7 linked regions of the Homo sapiens genome follow. The protein of the gene in region 1 interacts with the protein of each later gene in a biochemical or structural test. Each region holds a gene or a part of one and is shown in the gene's direction. Other genes may lie near its edges. The genes, in order: PEX5, EPHX2, PAOX, MLYCD, HAO1, IDH1 and DAO.

Region 1 (3,500 bases):
TATAATGTAATATATGTTATGTAATAATTATATATGTCATATATAATTTAATTATATGTCATATTTAATTATATATGTCATAATTTATATATGTCATATATAATTTAATTATATGTCATATATAATTTAATTATATATGTCATAATTTATATATGTCATATATAATTTAATTATATATGACATATATAATGTAATAATTATGTGTCATACATATATGTGTCATATATAATGTAATAATTATATGTGCCATATATAATGTAATAATTATGTGTCATATATAATGTAATAATTACATCATATATAATGTAATAATTATATATGTCACATATAATGTAATAATTATATATGTCACATATAATGTAATAATTATATATGTCACATATAATGTAATAATTATATATGTCACATAATGTAATAATTATATATGTCACATATAATGTAATAATTATATATGTCACATATAATGTAATAATTATATATGTCACATATAATGTAATAATTATATATGTCACATATAATGTAATAATTATATATGTCACATATAATGTAATAATTATATATGTCACATATAATGTAATAATTATATATGTCACATATAATGTAATAATTATATATGTCACATAATGTAATAATTATATATGTCACATATAATGTAATAATTATATATGTCACATATAATGTAATAATTATATATGTCACATATAATGTAATAATTATATATGTCACATATAATGTAATAATTATATGTCACATATAATGTAATAATTATATGTCACATATAATGTAATAATTATATATGTCACATATAATGTAATAATTATATATGTCACATATAATGTAATTATATATGTCACATATAATGTAATTATATATGTCACATATAATGTAATTATATATGTCACATATAATGTAATTATATATGTCATATAATGTAATAATATATGTCATATATAATGTAATAATTATATATGTCATATATAATGTAATTATATATGTCATATATAATGTAATTATATATGTCATATATAATGTAATTATATATGTCATATGTAATAATTATATGTCATATGTAATAATTATATATGTCATATATAATGTAATAATTATATATGTCATATATAATGTAATCATATGTCATATACAATGTAATAATTATATATGTCATATACAATGTAATAATTATATATGTCATATACAATGTAATAATTATATATATGTCATATACAATGTAATTATATGTCATATACAATGTAATTATGTTATATATAATGTAATAATTATATATGTTATATATAATATAATAATTATATATGTTATATATAATGTAATAATTATATGTTATATATAATGTAATTATATATGTTATATATAATATAATAAGTAGTAATTACTTATTATTTATAATTAGGTGTATTCTGAGAGTCTTGATCTTTGTTTTTCACATTTTGACATTTCATGCTCAGATTTTGAGACTACTTTGTTGACATTATTCAGGCAAAGTTTCAGTTAAAATGGAGTAGAAGTTTTTGTACTTTAATACCGAAGGGGTAGTAAAAGCAAGGGTGGTCAGATCTTGAAACTGGGGACAAAGACTGCTAGTATCAGCTAATATTTTCACACCCCTGCCCAAATGTCCCTCTTTAATGCAAATTGGAGTTAGTAGGTTCTCAACAAGAGAGTGGAGTTCCCCCTTGGGAACTGTCCTTGTCATGGGCCAGGAGTGGGGAATAGCAGGGGAAGGTGGTGGCAGACTAACTAGTAAGATTAGTTCTGGACACAGGGCAGAAGGAAAGAACACCGTAGGCTTGTGCCTTCTCTTTGTTTCCTTGTGTTCTTTAGTGCCCGCAGTCAGTCTCCTTGTTTTTTTTTTCTGGCCACAGGATAGTAAAGGGCAAAGTCCTGGAGGATGAAAAACAGTTCAGCACCCTCATTGAGTTTGTTGCCTTGATAGGTTAATTCTGATGTTGCAGCAGTCCCCTTTGTCACTAGAGCTTCTGAGACAGTTTCTAAAATTAGACTGAAAAAACATAGCTACTCAAAGATAATCAAAAGTGAGAAAAGTCAGAATAGTGTTTACTTCTGGGGGCTGGGAGACTGAGGGAGCCTGTGAGGGAACTGTAAACGTTCTGTATCTTGATCCGGGTGGTGGTTATGTGAGTGTATCAAATGTGGAAGTTAATTTAGCTGTACACTTAAGTTTGGTAGACATTATATGGTTTCATATTTGTATATTACATTTCAATTAAAAAATGAAAAAACCCACCAAACATCCATAGGGAAGAGCAGACCTATGTGTCTTTAATTCTAGCCTAGCATTCCACTTCTCTGATTCTCTTGGTAGGCAAATTACAATGAAATAAGGCTCCTTTGGCCGGGATTGTGTGAACTCTGGGTAGAGGGAGAACAGACCAGTGCCTTGGTTAAGGAACAGGAGCCCTTCTGTGCTCCCTTCACTCCTTACTGGCTCCCTGCTGTACTTCTGAGGAAAGTGAAAGCCCTTCCGCTTCCTATTTCTTATTGAAATATCTTGCACTTCAAGAAAAAGAGTTTGGTTCTTAATCCTTTCCTGAGATTCCTTATTTGATCTCCCGTTCCCAACTCTCAGTAAATTTCTGCCCCAGGCTCCTTGAGAATGGGTTGGATATTGAGGATGTTGAAAATTTAGTACTATATTCTTTTGACCAGGGGTTTCTGAGGGAGTCAGCAGAGTTTTGTCTGCTTTGGTGTGGCTAAGAGGGTCAGTTGAATATGGGCATCTCTTTCCCTTTCCTTGATCCCACACTGAATGAACCTGTGTGATTTCCCCACTTCTCTGCTCCTTGCAGACCCCTTGTCTGTGTCCCCTGCCCGCTGGGCTGAGGAATATTTGGAGCAATCAGAGGAGAAGCTGTGGCTGGGAGAACCTGAGGGAACAGCCACCGATCGCTGGTGAGTTCAGATACCTCTTTCCGAATCCCGTGAAAGGAGTATGGACAGTTTTCCCAGCCTCCTCCATCCACGTTCTCGAACCAACTTACTTTATTCTTTTTTTTTTTTTTTTTTATCATTCTTGGGTGTTTCTTGCAGAGGGGGATTTGGCAGGGTCATAGGACAATAGTGGAGGGAAGGTCAGCACATAAGCAAGTGAACAAAGGTCTCTGGTTTTCCTAGGCAGAGGACCCTGCGGCCTTCCGCAGTGTTTGTGTCCCTGGGTACTTGAGATTAGGGAGTGGTGATGACTCTTAAAGAGCATGCTGCCTTCAAGCATCTGTTTAACAAAGCACATCTTGCACCGCCCTTAATCCATTTAACCCTGAGTGAACACAGCACATGTTTCAGAGAGCACAGGGTTGGGGGTAAGGTCATAGATCAACAGGATCCCAAGGCAGAAGAATTTTTCTTAGTACAGAACAAAATGAAAAGTCTCCCATGTCTACTTCTTTCTACACAGACACAGCAACCATCGGATTTCTCAATCTTTTCCCCACCTTTCCCCCTTTTCTATTCCACAAAACCGCCAT
Region 2 (3,500 bases), on another chromosome or scaffold:
AACTTATCTTTTAGAATCAATTGACCCTCGAGGGAGTCAGGTGACAGGGGAGTATATTTTCTTAAGGCCTCCTGTAGCCGCTCAAGGAAGGCAGTAGGATTTTCTACCTTTTCCTGAGTTATGGTGGACATCATTGAATAATTCATGGGCTTTTTCCTAATTCTCCTTAGTCCTTCTGGAAGACAGGTCAACGGATGTTTGCGACTCCAGTCCCCATGATCTGAGTCTAGGTCCCAGTGGAGATCCATACTGGGGACGGCTTGTTGACCGGTAGGGATTTGTCCCTTTCTTTGGCTGTCATTCTGTCATTTACTTGACTAAGATACCATTTACTTGACTAAGATACCAAACTCTCAGGCTGCAGCTAAAGCCGCATTCTTTTCATTAAAGGGCAGGGTTTGATCTAACAATAGCATGACATCTCTCTAAGTGAGGTCGAAGGTTTGCCCTAGACCCTGTAGGACATCTATATACCTATCAGTATCATCTGAAAACTTCCCCAGGTCTACCTTGATCTGCTTTAAATCAGAGAGGGAGAAGGGGATATATACCCAGGTTGGGCCAAATTCCCCTCCCCCTACAGCTTGAAGGGGACATAACCGATAGCCCGGGGGTTTTATGGTCCCTTGGAGATTTCTTTGCTTGTTTCCTTCTGAGTGGGGGAGATTAGAGGAGGCTTATCATTAACAGGAAGAGGAGCTGGAGCTAGGCTAGGATATGGAGGTAAGCTCATGTTTCCAATACCAAGAATGTTCTTGTTGTATCAAGTTGCTTTTTTTTTTAATGACCACCTGCCCTTGTTTTATAGATTCAGTGGTATCTTCTTCCTGTATAGTTATATTCTTTCCCTAGTTCCTCTTCTTTTATCATCTCCCATTCTCTAAGAAGAAGAAATAATTTTCCCCTGTTTTCCCACTCACCTAGTGTCTTGTAGTTATTTGTTTATACCTTGCCTCCCTTGTTCTTCTGTGAGCTTCCTATGAATAGCATCATATTTTTCCACTTTTGCATCACAGCACATAGCACAATGCCTCACATACCTAAGATGCTCAATAGGATTGTTAAGTTGAATATTGCATTGCTTCTTAATACTGAGGAGCAGATACTGAAAGGGACCAGGAGTCTTTTGGAGGAGGTGGAAATGTTCTAAAATTGGAATGTGGTGATGCTTACACAACTGTAAATTTACTGCAAATCATTGAATTGTCATACTACATGAATTTAATGCTATGTAATTGTCTTAGTCCATTTTCTGTTGCTTACAACAGGATATCTGAAACTGGGTAATTTATAAAGAAAAGGAATTTATTTCTTGCAGTTATGGAGGCTGATAATTCCAAGGTTGAGGGGTTGCATCTGGTGAGGGCATTTTTGCTGGTAGGGACTCTCTGCAGAGTCTCAAGGTAGCACAGGGCATCATATGGTGAGGGGGCTCAGTGTGCTAGCTCAGGCCTCACTTCCACTTCTTATAAAGCCACTAGTCCCAATCCCATGATAACCCATTAACTCATTAACCCATTAGCCTATGGATGAATTAATCCATCCATGAAGGTGGAGCCCTCATGACCCAATCACTTCTTAAAGGCCCACCTCTCAATTTTAATTTAATGCCACAATGGGGATTAAATTTCAACATGAGCTTCAGAGGAGACAAACGTTCAAACCATAGCAGTAATTATACCTTAACAAAGCTGTTTAAAAAACCAACAACTGTTGGCAAAGGTATGGGAAAACCATTGCTGACATTGAAAAGTTGAGCAAGGCCACAGATATTAGGTATATGTCTCCATATAGTTGGTCCAGAGCTGACCACTGTTACCTGCAAGAGGGTGTCTGATAAAAGGTATACTTGACTATTATCAGAAATAAAGCTCCCAGGATGGGGATATTTGTTCTGTTACTCAGGGCTGGTAATTTTAACTGGCTTGCCACTTCAACTGGAATTCATCTGGGATTGGCAAGCCAGTTAAAATTACTTTCCAGACCTGAGTAATAGAACAAATGCATTCGTACACATAAATACATTTGTTCTGTTACTCAGTGTATTTATTTACTGAGGCTGCTGTAACAGCAAACAGAGACTGGATGGCAACAATGGAAATGTTTTCTCTCACAGCTCTGGAGGCTGGAAGTCCAAGATCAAGATGTCAGCAGGGTTGGTTCCTTCTGAGGCCTCTCTCCTTGGCTTGTTAACAGTGTTCTCCCTGTGTCCTCACATGGTTGACTCTCTGTGTGTGTCTGTGTCCTAATCGCCTTATAAGGGCACCAGTCCTATTGTTGGATTAGAGCCCACCTGTATGATCTTATTTAACTCAATTACCTCTTAAAGACCCACTCTCCAAATACAGTCACATCCTGAGGTATTGGAAGTTAGAACTTCAATGTATGTATTTGGGATGGGGGTATACAACCCAGCCTTAACACAGTGATATGGTTTGAATTTGTGTCCCCACCCAAATCTCCTGTCCAGTTGTAATCCCTAATGTTGGAGGAGGGGGTTGGTGGGAGGTGATTGGATCATGGGGGTGGATTTCCTCCTTGCTGTTCTCGTGATGTTGAGTGAGTTCTCATGAGATCTAGTTGTTTATAAAAGTGTGTAGCACTTACCTCTTCTCTCTCTTCCTCCTGCTCCAACCATGTAACACGTGCCTTGCTTCCCCTTCACCCTCCGCCATGATTGTGAGTTCCCTGAGGCCTCCCCAGCTATGCTTCCTCTACAGCCTGCAGAACCATGAGCCAATTAAATCTCTTTTCTTTATAAATTACCCGATCTGAGGTACGTCTTTATAGCAGTGTGAGAACAGACTAATACAGGAAACTTTTTAAAGGTTAGAAGATGACATTAAGATAAAATAGAAACTAGAGAGGCAGAATCGAAACCACAAAAAACATATTCCATTCTTTTTGAAGAAGGTGAACTCATGAAAAAGTTCTTTGAGACCATGCCTGGTGCACACGAGGACAGTAATGGCCGCGTGCCCACTCTCGGTTCTGACCGTTATATAGTAAAGTAGGAAGCGCCTCTGGGTGAAGCTGCTATTAGGTGGTTTCCCATGGGCAGCTTCTCTGTGGAACATACTGTGATTTACTGTATGGTCTCATGTCCTCAGCTGGATGGCTCCTTGCGCGCAAAGATCCCAATTTGAACTGCGTTTGCATTTTCCAGTTCCTGGCAGTATCCCTTTCTAGTGGCTGCTTCTCAATGAATATGAACAGTGTCTGTTTCCATGTGCTGCCATGACAAAATCCACAGAATGTTCCTGATGTTCTTTGTGTTTTCCAGAGGACTTCTGAATGATGCTTTCCAGAAAGGGGGACCAGAGGGTGCCACTACCCGGCTTATGAAAGGAGAGATCACACTTTCCCAGGTGAGGGGACATCACCACACAGAGCCCTTTGGATGAACGTTCTCTGCCTGTGTGCCCATCTCCCCGAACTTGGGGCCCACCATAATAGAAAACACCCACCTTTTCTGTGAAGACAAATGTTGTTTTAATGGT
Region 3 (3,500 bases), on another chromosome or scaffold:
CTAGGCAAGTAGAGAGAAGTCACTTAATTGCCCAAGTTCACAAAGCTAGCGATTGCCAGCACTCACTTGGAAATCTAGGTGTGATTGACAGGTGTGTGATGAAAAGCAGGAGCCTCCGCAGCCCTAACTCCTGTCTCCAAGGGGTGGCTTTGCCCTCCCCGGGGCAGGGATGAGCACTGAGACCCCATTGCTGTTTCCCAGAGATGCAGTCGTCGTCCACACATGAACATCTGCTGCTGGCTGGGCACGGTGGCTCACGCTTGTAATCCCAGCCCTTTGGGAAGCTGAGGCAGGCGGATCACCTGAGGTCAGGAGTTCGAGACCAGCCTGGTCAACATGATGAAACCCTGTCTCTACTAAAAATCCAAAAATTAGCTGGGCATGGTGGCAGGCACCTGTAATTCCAGCTACTTGGGAGGCTGAGGCAGGAGAATCGCTTGAACGGGGGAGGCAGAGGTCACAGTGAGCCGAGATGGTGTCATTGCACTCCAGCCTGGGTGACAGAGTGAGACTCTGTCTCAGAAAAAAAAAAAAACCAAAAATCTGCTGCTCAGTTTGCCTGTTTTTGTTTTTTGTTTTTTTCTTAATAGAACTTGTCAGTGTTTCCAAATCAGCACACATAGATCTACAGCGGTCTTTTTTGTTTCCCTCCAGTGGCTTTGTTCATTCACGTTTGGAGTAAGTGCTTGCAGGCCCTGCTAAGTGCTGATCACGGGGACATTGTCAGTAGATACATTGCTACAACTGTGAGCATTTTGTTTATAAGGAGCCAGTTCACAAAAATTAGCCGTCGGGTGCCTGTAGTCCCAGCTACTCAGGAGGCTGAGGCTGGAGAATTGCTTGAACCCAGGAGGCAGAGGTTGCAGTGAGCCGAGATTGTGCCATTGCACTCCAGCCTGGGAGACCAGAGCGAAACTCCGTCTCAAAAAAAAAGGAGCGGGTTAATTTGCCACGCAGTGTTTTCTTGTCATTATTTCATAAGCATAGATGGAAATTTAGGTGGCCTTCACTTTTTCTATTTCATGCAGTTTTACATGTGCACTTAAAAACACTTGTGTTGGCCAGGCACGGTGGCTCACGCCTGTAATCCCAGCACTTCGGGAGGCTGAGGCAGGTAGATCACCTGAGGTCACGAGTTCAAGACCAGCCTAACCAACATGGCAAGACCCCATCTCTACTAAAAATAGAAAAATTAGCTGGGCCTGGTCGTGGGTGCCTGTAATCCCAGCTATTTGGGAAGCTGAGGCAGGAGAATCACTAGAACCTGGGAGGTGGAGGTTGCAGTGAGCCAAGATGGCATCGTTGCATTCCAGCTTGGGCGACAGAGTGAGAATCCATCTCAAAAAAAAAAAAAAAAAGAAAACCCAAAAAACAAAAAAACAAAAAACACTTGTGTGAAAGGTGGGGAACAGAGGCTCACGCCTGTAATCCCAGCAGTTTGGGAGGCCAAAGTGGGAGGACTGAGCCAGGGAGGTCAAGGCTGCAGTGAGCCCTGATCATGGTGCTGCATGCACTCTAGCCTGGGCAACAGAGCAAGACCCTATCTCAAAAACAAGGACAAAAAAGTAAAACTGCTTGTGTGAATGTGTCTGTAGGATAAACACCAGCAGGGGAAATTGCTGGATCCAAGGTCTGGACAGACAGGACTTCCGTGGAGGGCTTTATGTGATGTAAGAAGAGTCCAATTCTGAATTCCAGGTTTTCTTAGGGAACATTTGGACACCTTCTTTGACCCTCCCCTGCCGGCTGAGAAGGCAGAAGCAATCAGGAAGATAGGCTTTGGGACCAACAACAAAATCTTCCTGGAGTTTGAGGAGCCCTTCTGGGAGCCAGACTGCCAGCTGATCCAGCTGGTGTGGGAGGACACGTCGCCCCTGGAGGATGCTGCCCCTGAGCTACAGGACGCCTGGTTCCGGAAGCTCATTGGCTTTGTGGTCCTGCCTGCCTTTGCGTACGTTTGCTCCCTGAGAAGTTCTGCGAGTGGCTGGCTCATAGGCCTTCATCTGATGGAGGACGCAGCAGTGTGTCTGTTCACTGCAGGGTATTTCTAGGGGGTTTAATGGGTAGGGTTCCCATGAGCGCCCCCCCACCAGGTGCTGGCTGCACCTGGGCCTGACCCCTGCGGGGACAGATGGCGCCCTGCTGTATGCGGGTTGTCAGCGTCCCTCAGGGCCCAGAATGTGTTTGTAGACTTGCAGGCAGGCTCAGTCTTCAGTCAGTGGGAACGTGTTTACTGGAATGTTGCAGGGAGCTGGGGCTTGTAGATACAGAAGAACTTTGAAACACCATCTGCCCATACGTGGGGAGACAATACTTAAATGGGATGAAATAATTGAAGGAAACATTCCGAGAAGTAATGGAATGGGAGACCCACAGAGGAAGGGCTCCCTTGTATGGGCTGGCCCTCTTAGAAACAGCATATCTAGACCACGTGGCGATTCAGGAGTTAATCCCATGAGTGATGTGGGGATGGAGGGACTGACTTTTCCAGCAAGATTAAAACACAAAGACAGCCTGATATAGTCAGATGGCAGAAATAATTCCACGTTTCCACTGAGAGATGCCGCAGGAGGGGGCACCAAGTTCTTGTTCTGAAAGACCCGGGATGGGGTGGGATGTAGGGCATGCCTGCCAGATGGTTCATAGTTGCCATCCACTGGGAGCAGGAGGCTGCAGGCTGCAGACCAGCCCTGCACCTGTGACGGGGGAAGCCTGTGTGTCTCCTTCACACTGAAGAGAAAACTGGCATTTCGGCCAGGCGCGGTGGCTCATGTCTGTAATCCCTGCACTTTGGGAGGCTGAGGCGGGTGGATCACCTGAGGTCAGGAGTTCGAGACCAGCCTGGCCAACATGATGAAACCCCGTCTCTACTAAAAATACAAAAAATTAGCCGGTGTGGTGGCACGCACCTGTAATCACAGCTACTCAGGAGGCTGAGGCAGGACAATCGCTTGAACCTGGGAGGCAGAGGTTGCAGTGAGCTGAGATTGTGCCACTGCACTCCAGCCTTGGCAACAAGAGCAAAACTCTGTCTAAAAAAAAAAAGAAAGAAAACTGGCATTCCAGGTGTTGAGATAGGCCTGGGTTGCTGGTGGGCAGCCGGGTGGGTGACTGTGTGTAGAGCCACCTGCTCCAGGCCCAGCCCCACCTCCTGTGCTCTCTTGCTTAGGACATCAGTGGGACCCTGAGTGCTTTGGTGGGACCCTGTCTGTGGCACGGGGTGGTAGCTGTCCCATCCTTTTATATACCTGCAAAGGGTTGGGGATCTCAAAGAGCTTTTGTTTATGTGAGTCACATCTGTAAATTTACCCCATGATAAATAAAATATTTTTTTGTTTTTGAGATGGAGTCTCGCTCTGTCCCCCAGACTGGAGTGCAGTGGTGCAATCTTGGCTCACTGCAAGCCCCACCTCCTGGGTTCACGCCATTCTCCTGCCTCAGCCTCCTGAGTAGCTGGAACTACAGGCACCCACCACCACGCCCGGCTAATTGTTTGTATT
Region 4 (3,500 bases), on another chromosome or scaffold:
ATATATGTATGTGTATATGTGTGTGTGTGTGTGTGCGTGCGTATATATATATATATATATATATATATATATATATGGTTTTTTGTTTTGTTGTTTACGGTTTTTTGTTTGTGTTTATTTTTTTGTTCATGTTTATGTTTTTTCTTGTTACGTTTCCCAGGCTGGTCTTGAACTCCTGGCCTCAAGCAAGCAATCCTCCAATCCCAAGTGCTGGGATTATAGATAGGTGTGAGCCCAGATGTAATTTTTTTAAAATCCCTGTCGCTTAAATCAGTCTTAGAATAGAATTAGATTGTTCTGTACCTATAAACTATCAACTGGGATCTGATATTGTAACCTCTCACCAGAATCACTTAATGTGGTATGATCTGATCTATTTTTTTAATCTGATTTTTTTTTTTTTTTTTTTGAGACAGAGTCTTGCTCTGTTGCCCAGGCTGGAGTGCAGCAGCACAATCTCTGCTCATTGCAACCTTCGCCTCCCAGGTTCAAGCCATTCTCCCACCTCAGCCTCCTGAGTAGCTGGGAATACAGGTGCTTGCCAACACATCTGGCTAATTTTTGTATTTTTAGGAGAGATGGGGTTTTGCTATGTTGGCCAGGCTGGTCTGGAACTCCTGACCTCAGATGATCCGCCCGCCTTGGCCTTCCAAAGTGCTGGAATTACAGGTGTGAACCACTGTGCCTGGCTGTGTTCTTACTTTTTAAAATGTTCTTTTCCTCTGATCTGAGTGAGTTTGGAGGCTTGTTACTGCCTGGATTTGTGGCCTCCTGAATGTAGAGGAGTTTGGAGGTATGTGTGTCCCTGTGGTTGCATGGTAGGTGTGGGTATGAGGATGTGATGTGTCTGGGGGATGGTGGTTTATAGGCTTTTTGTTTTTCTCCAGAGGCCCAGTTGGTTGATGACTTCAGTTTCTTAGAGGTGAAATCCCAGTGAAACCGAGTCGAATCCCCAGTAGAGGGGAAGGTCTGAGCGAGGTTCAGTGATTTGTGGGCACTCGAGGAAGGTTGGCCTTTAATTCATGGAAAGGGTTCCTCATGGGCAGTTTGGACCTTGCTGTTAGGGTGGAATGAGAGGTGCTCCAACCTTAACAGAGGCACAGAAACTAGAGAAGGGACCTGGTTCCCACTGCCACAGCCACCCGGCCATGCTAGACACCTGCGTACCCTCTGCCTTTTAGTTAATTGAGTACTCCTTGTTGGTTCTAGTAAATTCTGTGCTTACCTATGCTAAATAATACTTATTTTTAGATAGGACAGTATACCCATAGCATCAAGTGTACACCTGCGGAGTGTCAGCTTACGTGAGTGGGAATTTTCCCCAAATTTCTCAGCCTCTGCAGTGCTACCCTCATCCATGACTTTATCCTCCCTTCCCCAGAGCAGGGCTTCTGGACAAGGGAAGGTAACTTTTCTTCACATACCAAAATAAGCAGATCTTGATAGAGCTTCAAAAGAGAGGGAACCAGTTTCTCTTTTAAAAGGAAAAGTGGGCTGGTCTAAACGGTGTCATACAAGTCAATGGAATTAACAATACACAATACACAGAGCCGGGTGCAGTGGCACGCACCTGTAGTCCCTGCTACTTGGGAGGTTCAGCTGAGCCCGGAAGTTCAAGTGCAGCCTAGGCAACAGAGCAAGACCTGCCTCTGAAAAAAAAAATAAGAAACACTCCAGCAGAATCCACTGAGAACTGTCGCTGCCCTTAGCATCACCAGGATATTCCCCGCAGTTGTGTTTCTCAGTCTTGTATTGGTGATAAATGGTGCCTGAATTAACGCACGTACAGTTGCAGAGGCCTCTTTCCCTGGTGGTGTTTGTATCCTGGCAACGTTGCCGCGTGCTGTGGCTCATCCCAGCCTGAACAGCTGCTGCCGGTGTTAGAACTGAGCAACGGAGACTTCTAACCTTTAGCCTGGATTCCCAGTTCTCGTGTACCAGTGTCACATTTTGTAGCTGTCAGGAGCCCAAAATAGAATGAAGAGATCTGTAGGGGAGGAGCTTTCATCAGCCAAACCATTTCTTTCATAATTAATATTAAATTGATAGTAAAACTAGGTATTTCCAGCTTTTTTCATATCACGAATGTAAGACAGATACCAGTACCTCTTACGCAGAGCTCAGCTCATCCGTTCCTAAACTGGGGTACAGAAGCCCTCCTGGCCCCTGGGATGGTCCATAGATAAGTATCAGAGGAGTCCATGTACCCCAGGAAAACGTATGCACAATTTTACTAATGTATTTGCAGTGTTTTGGGGGCAGGGCCTATGGTTTTTAGCACGTAAGAGTGTGAGAGGATCCCAGGAAGATTAAGAATTGCTATAGTCAAATGCAGAAAGTACAGTTTTACAAAGGGCCATTCTGTGTCACCTAGCAAATGATCTCTTTCATCCTGCCCTCTTGCTACTTCCTAATCACGATTCATTCCATTTTTCCATCTTTTTCATTTGATATCAATCTATTAGTGAATGCTTTGCGAACTATAAAAATGAATCAGAAGTGGATCCTGCTTTTATGGCGTTTACAACCAAGTAAAGGAGATTGAGTCATGGAATGTAGAGTTAAAAGGAATTGCAAAGATCTTCTGGTCCAGCTGTCTATCTAATGCTTAAATCCGTTTTCAAACAGCTCCGTTGAGTTCTGTCCACCTGTGCTTGATGGCTTCCAGTGCTGAGGGTCACCGTCTCCCAGGATGACCTCTGTGGACAGCTCCAGCTATTCAAAAGTTCCTCTTTACACTAAATTGAGTCCACATCTGACTGCCCATGACTTCCACCAGTCAGTCCTAGATTTCCTTCCCCGGCCCCCATGGGGTCACACAGAACAAATTTGTGGCCTCTTTCGTGCCCTAGTGCTTAAACATGTAAAAGGAGACCTCATCTCCTTCCGAAAACTTCTCTGAGCCATCACCCCAAAACCTGCAACTCTTTCTCAGGCGTCAAAGTTCTGAGTCCTTTCACCCTTTAACAGGGATTAAAATGTAAAATTGTTTTATAAAATTTGGAAGCTGAGACAGGAGAATCGCTTGAACCTAGGGAGCAGAGGTTGCAGTGAGCCAGGGTTGCACCACTGCACTCCAGCCTGGGTGACAGAGGAAGACTCCATCTCTCAAAAAAAAAAAAAAATTCTAGCTGTTGTAAAGCCATTCTTATAGGTGTTGCCCATTGTGTTCTTTATGACCCTTGTAGAGAGATTCAGAAGGTCATTCTTGTATCAGATGTCCTGAGATGTTTACTGTTATTTAATAATAATGTTCAGTGGATCTGTTACTATGTAGTTTATGAGTAACAAAGACCCAAAATAACAGTGATTTGAATATGACAGAAGTTTGTCTGTCATGTGAAAGTCTAGAGGTGGGCAGCCCAGAGCTGATTCTGCTCTTTGGTGCTCTTGGTGGATTCAGACTTGAATCTTGTTGCTCTGCCGAGAAAAACCTTCATCTCCAAAGCCACGTCGTGGCCCAGGATGGCTGCTCCAATGCCAGCCATCACACCGCCTTC
Region 5 (3,500 bases), on another chromosome or scaffold:
TAACCTCTCATTATAGCTTTATAAGCAGCAACTCACTGGATTCCTATCAACATCCTGTGAGTGTCATTTGGACAAGTATATTTATACCCATTTGATGCATGGTAGGCACACAGATGAGTCAAATGACTTGAAGGAATAGAGTTTTACATAATATACTTTTATATATTTATACTTCTAATATATTTATACTTTATAACAGATTTGACTGTTTTATATATTGCATATAAACATTATATCAGTTTCTCCTCCACTAAGGCTGACTCCAATTTTACTCCAATTTTACTACCAATTTTTGGAAGAAAGCCTACCTATCACTCATGTTCTCTCAAGTACCCTCTAAAACTATTAGTTAGATGACTCTATTTAATTTTCCATTTATTTGCCCGTTTCTTGCTACCTTTCCCCCCAAAATGTAACTGCTACCTTGCTCAAAAGGATGTGTCTACTTGGGATATCTAGCACACACATTTTATGAGATTTTAAAAGACAACATAAATGGTAAACTATATATTTAATACAATTTTGAAAGACAAAATTTTAAAATTAAAAAGGAAGAAAAAAATTAAACTAACCCCATAATTCTCCCACCCATCATTAGCATGTAGTTTGTTTAGATTCATCTACCAATAAGTAGAATTGTACAAATTTGATATCATGTAATACATGTCATTTTGTAAACTTTTTTCTTTCCTTAATATATCTATATATCATAAACATTTTTCTATGTCTATATTATTTTAAAATTGTAATACCCAGAGTTCTCCAGAGAAACAGAATTAATAGGATCTCCCCCTTGGAGATTTCTCATCTTTTTCTCTCTCGATAGATACAGATAGATACATACATAAGTCTATCTCTCTATCTCTATCTTTATCTCTAAAACACCTATCCATAGATAGACATTTTTAGGAATTGGCTCATGTGTTTGTGGAAGCTTGCAAGTTCAAATGTGCAGAGTAGGTGGGCAAGCTACCAGGGAAATGTTGATGTTGCAGTTCCAGTCTGAAGGCAGGCTCCTTGCAGAATTCTTCTTTTTCTTAGCAGTCTTACTTCCCCTTCCTCTTCCCCTTCTCCTTCCCCTTTCCCTTCTTCTTCTCCTTCCCCTTCTTCTTATTCTCCTTCACAGACTTATTTTTAAGGCCTTGAGCTGATTAGATAAGACCCACTCACATTATGAGGGATAATCTGCTTTACCTGTAGTCTACTAATTAAAATGTTAATCTCATCTAAAAAACACCTTCATAGCAGCATTCAGACATGTTTCACCAAATATCTGGGCACCATGGTTTAGCATATTGATGCAGAAAATTGATTATCATAATAATATTATTTTTTTTTGAGATGTAGTTTCACTCTTGTCACCCAGGCTAGAGCGCAATGCTGCAATCTCAGCTCACTTCAACCTCTTCCTCCTAGGTTCAAGCGATTCTCCTGCCTCAGCCTCCTGAGTAGCTGGGACTACAGGCGCCCATGACCACGCCCGGTTAATTTTGTGTTTTTTTAGTAGAGATGGGGTTTCACCACGTTGGTCAGGCTGGTCTCGAACTCCTGACCTCAGGTGATCCACCCGCCTCAGCCTCCCAAAGTGCTGGGATTACAGGCGTGAGCCACTGTGCCCAGCAATAATATTAATTTTAATGGGTGTGTTCATTTCATTTTATATATGACCTACAATTTAACCAATCCCCTAAGGCTGGATGTTCAGGTTCTTAATATTTTTTGCCCGTATTTACAGACACCTTTGACTATTGGATTTATTTTGTTCTTCAGGAACAATATACAAAGTGTGGAAAGAAATGTATATTTCTAATCATTGGAAAATAAACACTGAGCAGAAATAACTCCAGTAGCCATTTGTATCAGAGGAGGTAGAATCAGGAAATAGATGGTATGGGCCAGACTTTCTTCTCTCTTTAAGAGATTTGACTTCATATTGCCAAATTGCCCTTCTAGATGTCTTTACTCATCCAACTACAATTCAAAGGTTTGGGAGGGTAAGCAATGCCAGGCCCATCTTGATCATCCCCTTTCTTTCTCAGCCTGTCAGTCCCTGGGAACGGGCATGATGTTGAGTTCCTGGGCCACCTCCTCAATTGAAGAAGTGGCGGAAGCTGGTCCTGAGGCACTTCGTTGGCTGCAACTGTATATCTACAAGGACCGAGAAGTCACCAAGAAGCTAGTGCGGCAGGCAGAGAAGATGGGCTACAAGGCCATATTTGTGACAGTGGACACACCTTACCTGGGCAACCGTCTGGATGATGTGCGTAACAGATTCAAACTGCCGCCACAACTCAGGTAACCATGATCATGTGGGCCCCGAGCTGAGGCGAAAGGGATCTTGACTGGGAATGTTAGGGTCTGGGTTCTACTGATAGCAACGTTGCTAAACATCTAGTTAATCTTCAGCTAATCACATCCCTTTTGTAGACATCACTTTTTTTGAGATACACAATAGAAACAGAAATGGCCTCTATAAAAGTCCAATAAATTTTCAGACCAGAGTGCATTAAGGGCTTTGGCTTTGGGAAGTATGAATTGCTATACAGATGGAAGATACTGAATTTTGCCCAAGCAGCAGTTTATTATTATCATCCTGGTGCCCTATTTCTTTGTTAAAGTCAAAGAGCCACCTTTACCTTTTATTTTTAATGGTACATGGGACAGCTAAGGCTAAGAAGATTGAAGAAAGAAAATAATGAAGGTTTAAAAAAGCCACATCTTTGATCCCTCACTGTCTACTTCTTCTTTCAGCAATATTCCTTTCACTGTGGTTCATCCATGGGTCAAGATTCATTGATTCATTCACTCAAATCATTCATCTTAGCAAAAACAATATATCACATAATCTGATGTTGAACTATAAAGGTTTCATCAGGTCATTCATTCACCCTGTCCACAAGCTGTGAATTATTATCTCTTTCCTGGTTGTATTTTGGGATTACAATCATCTTGAGTCAAAGCTGGAAACTGAGTGGAAGTCTCTGGGAAAGACTCAAACCTCCTTAAGCTATACACCTCTTTTCCCCATCAGATTTTCCTTCCTTCAGTTTCCACCAAAATGTGCTCTTGGATTTTTCATATGAATGTATAATGTACCTCAGGCCTATAAGTATTTTAAAAGGGATCAAAATCTTAGTTTTAATGGAGGACATTTTTATGATGGACTCCTACAGCATCCATCAGAATATGTAAGATGATGAGGAATGTCTTCCTGTGTTCCCAGATCTCATGCCACAGAGGCCCTTGCTTACTCTATGTTTGAATTGTATTTGGAAAAAAAAAAAAAAACAAAAAACTAGGGCTAGCAAAATTGAAAAAAGATAAAAGACGAAAGAAGCCACATGTAAACATACTGTGTTTACTCTTCTAAAATATTAAAAAATGAAAAGATCCAAAATCAAATTAATATTCCCCTGGAATTTCATATCTATTTCAGTGACTGTGGAGTGAATCTCACCACGAAAGTTGCTGCAGTCTTGTATAAGTTTCACATAGTTTTA
Region 6 (3,500 bases), on another chromosome or scaffold:
ATGCATTTATCTTAAAGCACAGAGAGAAGGTTGGCAGAAATCTGCTGTGCATGAATTATATACATTAAATATTAATATTCTCAAATCACCCAGCATATAATCCTGCCCTTTGCTCTGGTAGGGCTCTTGTATCTGGAAGAGGTTTCCTTATATATTTGCTGAAGTTTTCTTCTTGCCCTTCTGGGTATTTATCCTGTGAAAAAGTAGAACATTTGCTTTTTGCCTTTTCTTTCCCAGCTACCCTGCTACCTTTGATGGCAAATCCCACCCAAAAGTTGTTGAAATAATTAGTGGGCCCTTTTCCTTCACTATTGAAGTTGTTGAAAGCACTCACACAAACAAAAATACCCAACACTCACCTACCTTTTGTTTTTCTTGCCTCTTCCAAATAATATCTGTTGGAATCTGGTTCTGCAGGCTTCAGCACCTTTCACCCTGAACCCAAGTTAACCCTGAGCATTGGCATGGATTCAAGTTCTATCTTTAAGTAATAACAAAGTTCAATAATAGTTGTAAAACACAGTGATTACATGTAGCATAATTATTTCTACTTATTTCTACCAACTACAGTAGGAGTGCTCAGTATCCTCCAGGAGATTATAAGAATTTTCATTCAGTATTTGAAATTTAAGTTTTTCTCAATAACTGAGGATTGAGTACACCCCTAAAGTTTAAAATAGATGTTGGGAATTGTAAAGGTAGGGTGTTTGTCCATTCTTGCGTTGCTATAAAGAAATACCTGAGGCTGCGTAAGTTATAAAGAAAAGAGGTTTAATTGGCTCATGGTTCTGCAGGCTGTACAAGCCTGGCTCCAACACCTGTTCCTGGTGAGGGCCTCAGGAAGCTTCCAATCTTGGCAGAAGGCAAACAGACAATAGGTGTATCACATGGCAAGAGCGGGAACAAGAGAAAGAGAAGGGGGAGGTCCCAGACTCTTAAACAACCAGATTTCAAGTGAATTAACTGAGCGAGAACTCACGTAATCACCAAAGGGGATGGTCCTAAGCCATTCATAAGGGATCCAACCCCATGTTCCAATCTCCTCCCACTGGGCCCCACCTCCAACACTGGGAATCACATTTCAACATGAGATTTGGAAGGGACAAATATCCAAACCATATCAGTATGTAAAAGAAGTTTCAAAATTATTTGCCTTTTCTTAAATGTATTTCTGGTTCATATCAGTTTTTGGCATTTCTGCATCTTCAGGATTTTAAAGACTGTATGTTTTTTCATTTCTGCTGTCCTTCCAAAACAAGTTAGAATGTCCTTATCTAGAACTGGCTTTTCTCTCATTATGTGCCTCAGAAATTTGTTGGAAACCTGTCTGGGACTTCTGAAATCTAGTCTCAGATGTGAGAGCTGAGAAGTAGGTCATTTGGTTGTGGTGGGTGATTTTAGCCTTATTACAACTACATTACATTTATTCTTCTCCCTTTTTTCCTCTCACTGGCTTCTCCTCTACAGAAGGTGGTGGTGTTGCCATGGGGATGTATAATCAAGATAAGTCAATTGAAGATTTTGCACACAGTTCCTTCCAAATGGCTCTGTCTAAGGGTTGGCCTTTGTATCTGAGCACCAAAAACACTATTCTGAAGAAATATGATGGGCGTTTTAAAGACATCTTTCAGGAGATATATGACAAGTAACTATAGTTCTTTTTTAACTTTTTCTTTATTCTCAAGTAAGCTGACATTTGCATATAGAGTATGTATCTCCCTATCCCTATGATTCTGGGTAAATTGAGTGAAAATCATCACTGTCTCTTAAAGATAAGGGCAAAACTGAGGTTTAGCAGGAGTGAAACAAAACCACTCTGACTTGCTTTTATAAGATAAACATGTTCTTAAATAAGGTCCCCACATGAATTGTTTTCAGAGCCAGGTTCTTTAATGTTTAAATAAACGTACGCTGTTAGTGATAAGTTCTAATTTTTCATGTGTGAGTTTCTAAGTCAGACCCATTTCCATTCTTTCTGAAGCCCATTGTTAGAATTTAAAATTCTGTTGGCCAGGCACGGTGGCTCATGCCTGTAATCCCAGCACTTTGGGAGGCCGAGGCGGGCGGATCACGAGGTCAGGAGATCGAGACCATCCTGGCTAACACGGTGAAACCCTGACTCTACTAAAAATACCAAAAATTAGCCGGGCGTGGTGGCGGGCGCCTCTAGTCCCAGTTACTGGGGAGGCTGAGGCAGGAGAATGGCGTGAACCCGGGAGGCGGAGGTTGCAGTGAGCCGAAATCACGCCACTGCACTGCAGCCTGGGCGACAGAGCGAGACTCCGTCTCAAAAAAAAAAAAAGAAAAGAAAAGAAAAAAAAGAATTTAAAATTCTGTTTTAGTGGAGTCATTTGAACTTAAGTCTAAGTTTATAACAACACTGGCTTCCACAGCACAGGAGGTGAGCATGTGTTAATATTTAAGATTGGCATAACTCCCTTTAGGTGCAAGTGTTCAGGCCAAAATGTTCCTGAGGCATTTTGATTCCTCCTCCTGCTGCCCATCTATACCAAGCCCAGAAACTGTCTGGAATATATTTTAGTTTCCTGAATGACACCAAGAAGTAGAACAGTCTTTTCAAAAATGTATTTTAAAAATAAGCTGAATCTCAAGAATCTGATCTATAGTATAATGAAAACTGAAAAGTGAAGTAGTCATTGGGATACTCTACTGTCTCACTTAATTCTCACGGCTTCCCTGCAAGGTGGGTAAAATTGTTCCTACAGATAGTCAAATTGAGTTTTACAGTTAGAAAATGATTGGGCTAGGATTTGAGCCAATGTCTGTCAGATTCCTGAGTTTCTGCTACTTCTACTAAAATATGCTGCTTCTTGTGTGTCCGGTCTTCTGTTTGGGACAAGCAGATGATATCCCTAACAAAATCAATTTTCTTTATTATTATTCTCTTTTACCTTTTGTTTCCCAGGCAGTACAAGTCCCAGTTTGAAGCTCAAAAGATCTGGTATGAGCATAGGCTCATCGACGACATGGTGGCCCAAGCTATGAAATCAGAGGGAGGCTTCATCTGGGCCTGTAAAAACTATGATGGTGACGTGCAGTCGGACTCTGTGGCCCAAGGTACAGAGGTGGAGCCTGGCCTGTAGGAACAGGGTCATTCCAGGGTAGTTCTCTAATTTGGGAAGGGGAGTTTTGTAGTCCTTTGTTGTAAAATCTTGGAATGTTAAACCTCCAGGTCCACCGTCTTACCTGACAGCTAAGGAAATTAAGCTCAGACTAGAGAAATGATTTACTCAAGACCACATGGGAAGTAAATTAGTGGATTGACACTCCTGGCTCCAGTGTCACTCCTTGAAGTTTTAAAGCCTACCTGATCTGAAAATCACTCCCTTTCCCTGCCCTCCTTGTCCTTTGGTGAAAATGTAAAAAACCAGGGCACTCAGGCAAGGAGGGATAAAGTGAGGAGCTTGATCATGTCATAACCAAGCTTTGGTGCCTGCAAAGCTCATTTATTGGGCAGCAGGACCTACTCATGTCCCTCT
Region 7 (3,500 bases), about 100 Mb from region 1:
CCTGGCACTACCCTTTGGGCCCACAGAACAACATTGCTCCCACCTCCATTTCACAGCCTTCAAATATAGCTCTGATTTTTACCTTTATTTCCACCTTTTGCTTACTGTGACTCTAGCTATGGCTGGTTCCACACAAGCCTAATTCTGGAGGGAAAGAACTATCTACAGTGGCTGACTGAAAGGTGAGATTTTAAGCTTCACTTTGAGGGAGGTACCTCCCAGAGACCAAGTTGTAGTGGAAGATGGTTCGTGGGCTTCCCTCAGCATGGACTAACCCCCAGGTTTGAAGAATACCCTTAGGCCTGGTGTGGGAGCTATCCTTGGTCCTGATCACCGCTGGGCACAGAGGCAATGGATCCTGAGCCTAGCTGAGCATCAGAACCACCTGGGCAGCTGTTTACACATGATGTCCATTAACAACCTCTTTCAAATCCCTAATGTTTGTGTAATAGTTTTAGATGTATTCTTTTAAGGTTTCCAGATACATTTACATCATCTGCAAAACATAAGCTGCCTTTTATTTTTATCTCCCTCTCTCTTTTTTTTTCTTCTCTAACTGCTTTGGCCAATACCTCTAGAACAATGTTACTCATACAGATGATAGTGGATGGCTTTGACTTGTTCCTCATGTTAATAGGAATCTTGCAGTGTTCTAAATTAGCAAACACTCACTTGAGAGATACATTGGTATTTATATTCACATACATTCATATTAAGGGAGATTCCATACCTTTTTTGTGTGTGTGAGATGGAGTCTCGCTCTGTCACCCAGGCTGGAGTGCAGTGGTGCGATCTTGGCTCACTGCAAGCTCTGCCTCCTGGGTTCATGTCATTCTCCTGCCTCAGCCTCCTGAGTAGCTGCGACTACAGGTGCCTGCCACCACCACACCTGGCTAATTTTTTGTATTTTTAGTAGAGATGGGTTTTCACCATGTTAGCCAGGATGGTCTCAATCTCCTGACCTCGTAATCTGCCCGCCTCGGCCTCCCAAAATGCTGGGATTACAGGTGTCAGCCACCACGCCCAGCCTGATTCCATACATTTTTTATATATTACTGTTTTTTAAAGATTTTTAGGCCAGGCATGGTGGTTCATACCTGTAATCCTAGCACATTGAGAGGCCGAGGTGGGCAGATCACTTGAGCCCAGGAGTTCAAGACCAGCCTGGGCAACATGGCAAAACCCTGTCTCTACAGAAAAATTCAAAAATCAGCCAGGTATAATGGTGCATGCCTGTAGTCACAGCTACTTAGGAGGCTGAGGTGGGAGGATGGCTTTATCCCGGGAAGGAGAGGCTGCAGTGAGCTGTGATCATGCCACTGCACTCCAGCCTGGGTGACAGGGCGAGACCCTGTCTCAAAAAAAAAAAAAAAGATTAAAAAAATATGGAATATATAGTGGCTTTTATCAGATGACCTCAGAAGATTTTTTTTAAATGTAGATTTTAGGACCCCACTCTATACCTGCTGAATTAGAACTTCTGGGATAAGGTTCATAAATTTGCTTTTTTTCATTTTTTTGAGACAAAATCTTACTTTGTCACCCAGGCTGGAGTGGGATGTAGTGGTATGAACACAACTCACAGCAGCCTCAACTTCCTGGGCTCAAGTGATGCTCCCACCTCAGCCTCCAAAGTAGCTGGGACCACATGCATGTGCCACAATGCCTATCTAATTTTTAAATATTTTTGTAGAGATAGGGTCTCACTATGTTGCCCAGGCTGGTCTCAAACCCCTGGGCTCAAGCAATCTTCCTGCCTCAGCCTCCCAAAGTGCTGGGATTACAGGCGTGAGCAAACAGGCCTAGCAAAAATTTGCATTTTAAGAAGCTTCCTGGCGATTCTAATTATCAGCCATGTTTGGGAATCATTGTACTAAGACATGGCTATTTCTCCTAACCTGGGGACACATGACCCTTGTCCAGTCTTTTCCAGGAAAAACATGCCCTCAAGATGTTTTTCTATCTTGAGGAAATGATGGAAATGAGATAGTTCCAAGGGTATGCTTCACCTTCTTTTTGGCTTATTTCCTGTTCTTTGGATGTTTCTAGTGTATTTCTTTCTTTCTTCTTTTTTTTTTTTTTTTTTTTTGAGACAGAGTCTTGCTCTGTCACCCAGGCTGGAGAGCAGTGGCGCAATCTCGGCTCACTGCAAGCTCCGCCTCCTGGGTTCATGCCTTTCTCCTGCCTCAGCCTCCCGAGTAGCTTGGAATACAGGCGCCTGCCACCACGTCTGGCTAATTTTTTTTTTGTATTGTTAGTAGAGACGGGGTTTCACCGTCTTAGCCAGGATGGTCTCAATCTCCTGACCTCGTGATCCGCCCACCTCGGCCTCCCAAAGTACTGGGATTACAGGCGTGAGCCACCGCGCCTCGCTGTTTCTAGTGTATTTCTAATCGTGATAGATGTTTTTCCTATGGGATGTTTAAAAGGAGGGTGGATGTCCTCAGCCCACCTCCCTCCTCATGCCCGGCTTCTGACAAAGGGGAATTTGGCACTGGTACAACTCTCCCCTTCTCTACTCTGAATCTCATCGCCTTTGCTGTTACAAAGCAATGTGGTGGTCATAGGAAGTGCTGGGGGCTAAGAGGCCTGGGTTTGAGTTCCAACTCCATCATTGACTCACTCTATGGCCTTCAGCAAGGCCCTTCCCCCACTCCATCTGCCCAACAAGGGGCTTGGACCATCTCTGGTTTCTCAAAGGAGATTTTGTGGACCACCAGTCCAGTAGGTGCTCATGAGCTGATTTGATGACACAGCCATCTTCTCAAGCAGCATCCTGTGCAACTAACGTCCGCAGAAGGTTGTTTGGGAAAGGTCCCTGTGCCACCCTCTTGGTGGGATGGGGCAGATAGCTGAATACTGGGCTTTTTGATGTGTTTGATCATCCCAGGTTAACTGAGAGGGGAGTGAAGTTCTTCCAGCGGAAAGTGGAGTCTTTTGAGGAGGTGAGTTGCAGGGCTGATGCGGTGGATGGGGCAGGGAGAAGAGGGGAGGCCTCTGCTTCTTGCTGCTGAGTCGGGGGCTCCCTTCTCAGGCTCCTAGGGTCCCCACAGGCCTGCCTCAGACCCTTGCCCCAGAAGCACTCAGGTATTCTGAAGGAGGAAGTCTCTGCCTTCATGTTGGTAGTGGGAACAAAGGAACACTGGGATCATGGTGGCCATTAGGAGCTGATTTATATCTGAGACTCAATGAGTTTTGGGTCTAGAGAGCTGGCCGCATTTTCTCAGTGTCAGCTGCACTCCAAGGTCAGAACTTGGTTGCTTCCTAGCCCTACCGACATCTGTGTTGGTCTTTCTGCAAAGTCCAGGCCCTCAGCTGACTCACCTCTAAAGAAGCACCACCACCAATAATAATGACAGGAAAAGCCACCATCTCCAGGCACCAGCAAAAAGAGCTTTACTGTATGGCTTCATTCAATCCCAGCATCTAAAACCCTGCTTGGCACAAGGAAGGCGCTCCGTACATGTAGCTACTAGTGCTATGTCATGAAGACTAACCTG

Evidence for each region.
Region 2: the proteins of PEX5 (region 1) and EPHX2 interact in a test that uses a peptide from one of them, tested with the Homo sapiens proteins (one large-scale study listed by BioGRID).
Region 3: the proteins of PEX5 (region 1) and PAOX interact in a test that uses a peptide from one of them, tested with the Homo sapiens proteins (one large-scale study listed by BioGRID).
Region 4: the proteins of PEX5 (region 1) and MLYCD interact in a test that uses a peptide from one of them, tested with the Homo sapiens proteins (one large-scale study listed by BioGRID).
Region 5: the proteins of PEX5 (region 1) and HAO1 interact in a test that uses a peptide from one of them, tested with the Homo sapiens proteins (one large-scale study listed by BioGRID).
Region 6: the proteins of PEX5 (region 1) and IDH1 interact in a test that uses a peptide from one of them, tested with the Homo sapiens proteins (one large-scale study listed by BioGRID).
Region 7: the proteins of PEX5 (region 1) and DAO interact in a test that uses a peptide from one of them, tested with the Homo sapiens proteins (one large-scale study listed by BioGRID).

What each region holds. Positions count from the first base shown.
Region 1 is NC_000012.12:7,196,186-7,199,685, forward strand, and holds part of PEX5 (peroxisomal biogenesis factor 5), read left to right. Parts: intron 1-2,825; coding exon 2,826-2,928; intron 2,929-3,500.
Region 2 is NC_000008.11:27,497,643-27,501,142, forward strand, and holds part of EPHX2 (bifunctional epoxide hydrolase 2), read left to right. Parts: intron 1-3,283; coding exon 3,284-3,368; intron 3,369-3,500. UniProt on the Homo sapiens protein: Bifunctional enzyme. The C-terminal domain has epoxide hydrolase activity and acts on epoxides (alkene oxides, oxiranes) and arene oxides. Plays a role in xenobiotic metabolism by degrading potentially toxic epoxides.
Region 3 is NC_000010.11:133,382,262-133,385,761, forward strand, and holds part of PAOX (peroxisomal N(1)-acetyl-spermine/spermidine oxidase), read left to right. Parts: intron 1-590; exon of another isoform or gene 591-678; intron 679-1,698; coding exon 1,699-1,951; intron 1,952-3,500. UniProt on the Homo sapiens protein: Flavoenzyme which catalyzes the oxidation of N(1)-acetylspermine to spermidine and is thus involved in the polyamine back-conversion. Can also oxidize N(1)-acetylspermidine to putrescine.
Region 4 is NC_000016.10:83,902,115-83,905,614, forward strand, and holds part of MLYCD (malonyl-CoA decarboxylase, mitochondrial), read left to right. Parts: intron 1-3,500. UniProt on the Homo sapiens protein: Catalyzes the conversion of malonyl-CoA to acetyl-CoA.
Region 5 is NC_000020.11:7,912,959-7,916,458, reverse strand, and holds part of HAO1 (2-Hydroxyacid oxidase 1), read left to right. Parts: intron 1-2,039; coding exon 2,040-2,295; intron 2,296-3,500. UniProt on the Homo sapiens protein: Broad substrate specificity (S)-2-hydroxy-acid oxidase that preferentially oxidizes glycolate.
Region 6 is NC_000002.12:208,241,572-208,245,071, reverse strand, and holds part of IDH1 (isocitrate dehydrogenase [NADP] cytoplasmic), read left to right. Parts: intron 1-1,467; coding exon 1,468-1,645; intron 1,646-2,926; coding exon 2,927-3,078; intron 3,079-3,500. UniProt on the Homo sapiens protein: Catalyzes the NADP(+)-dependent oxidative decarboxylation of isocitrate (D-threo-isocitrate) to 2-ketoglutarate (2-oxoglutarate), which is required by other enzymes such as the phytanoyl-CoA dioxygenase.
Region 7 is NC_000012.12:108,890,092-108,893,591, forward strand, and holds part of DAO (D-amino-acid oxidase), read left to right. Parts: intron 1-116; coding exon 117-182; intron 183-2,890; coding exon 2,891-2,945; intron 2,946-3,373; exon of another isoform or gene 3,374-3,500. UniProt on the Homo sapiens protein: Catalyzes the oxidative deamination of D-amino acids with broad substrate specificity. Required to catabolize D-amino acids synthesized endogenously, of gastrointestinal bacterial origin or obtained from the diet, and to use these as nutrients.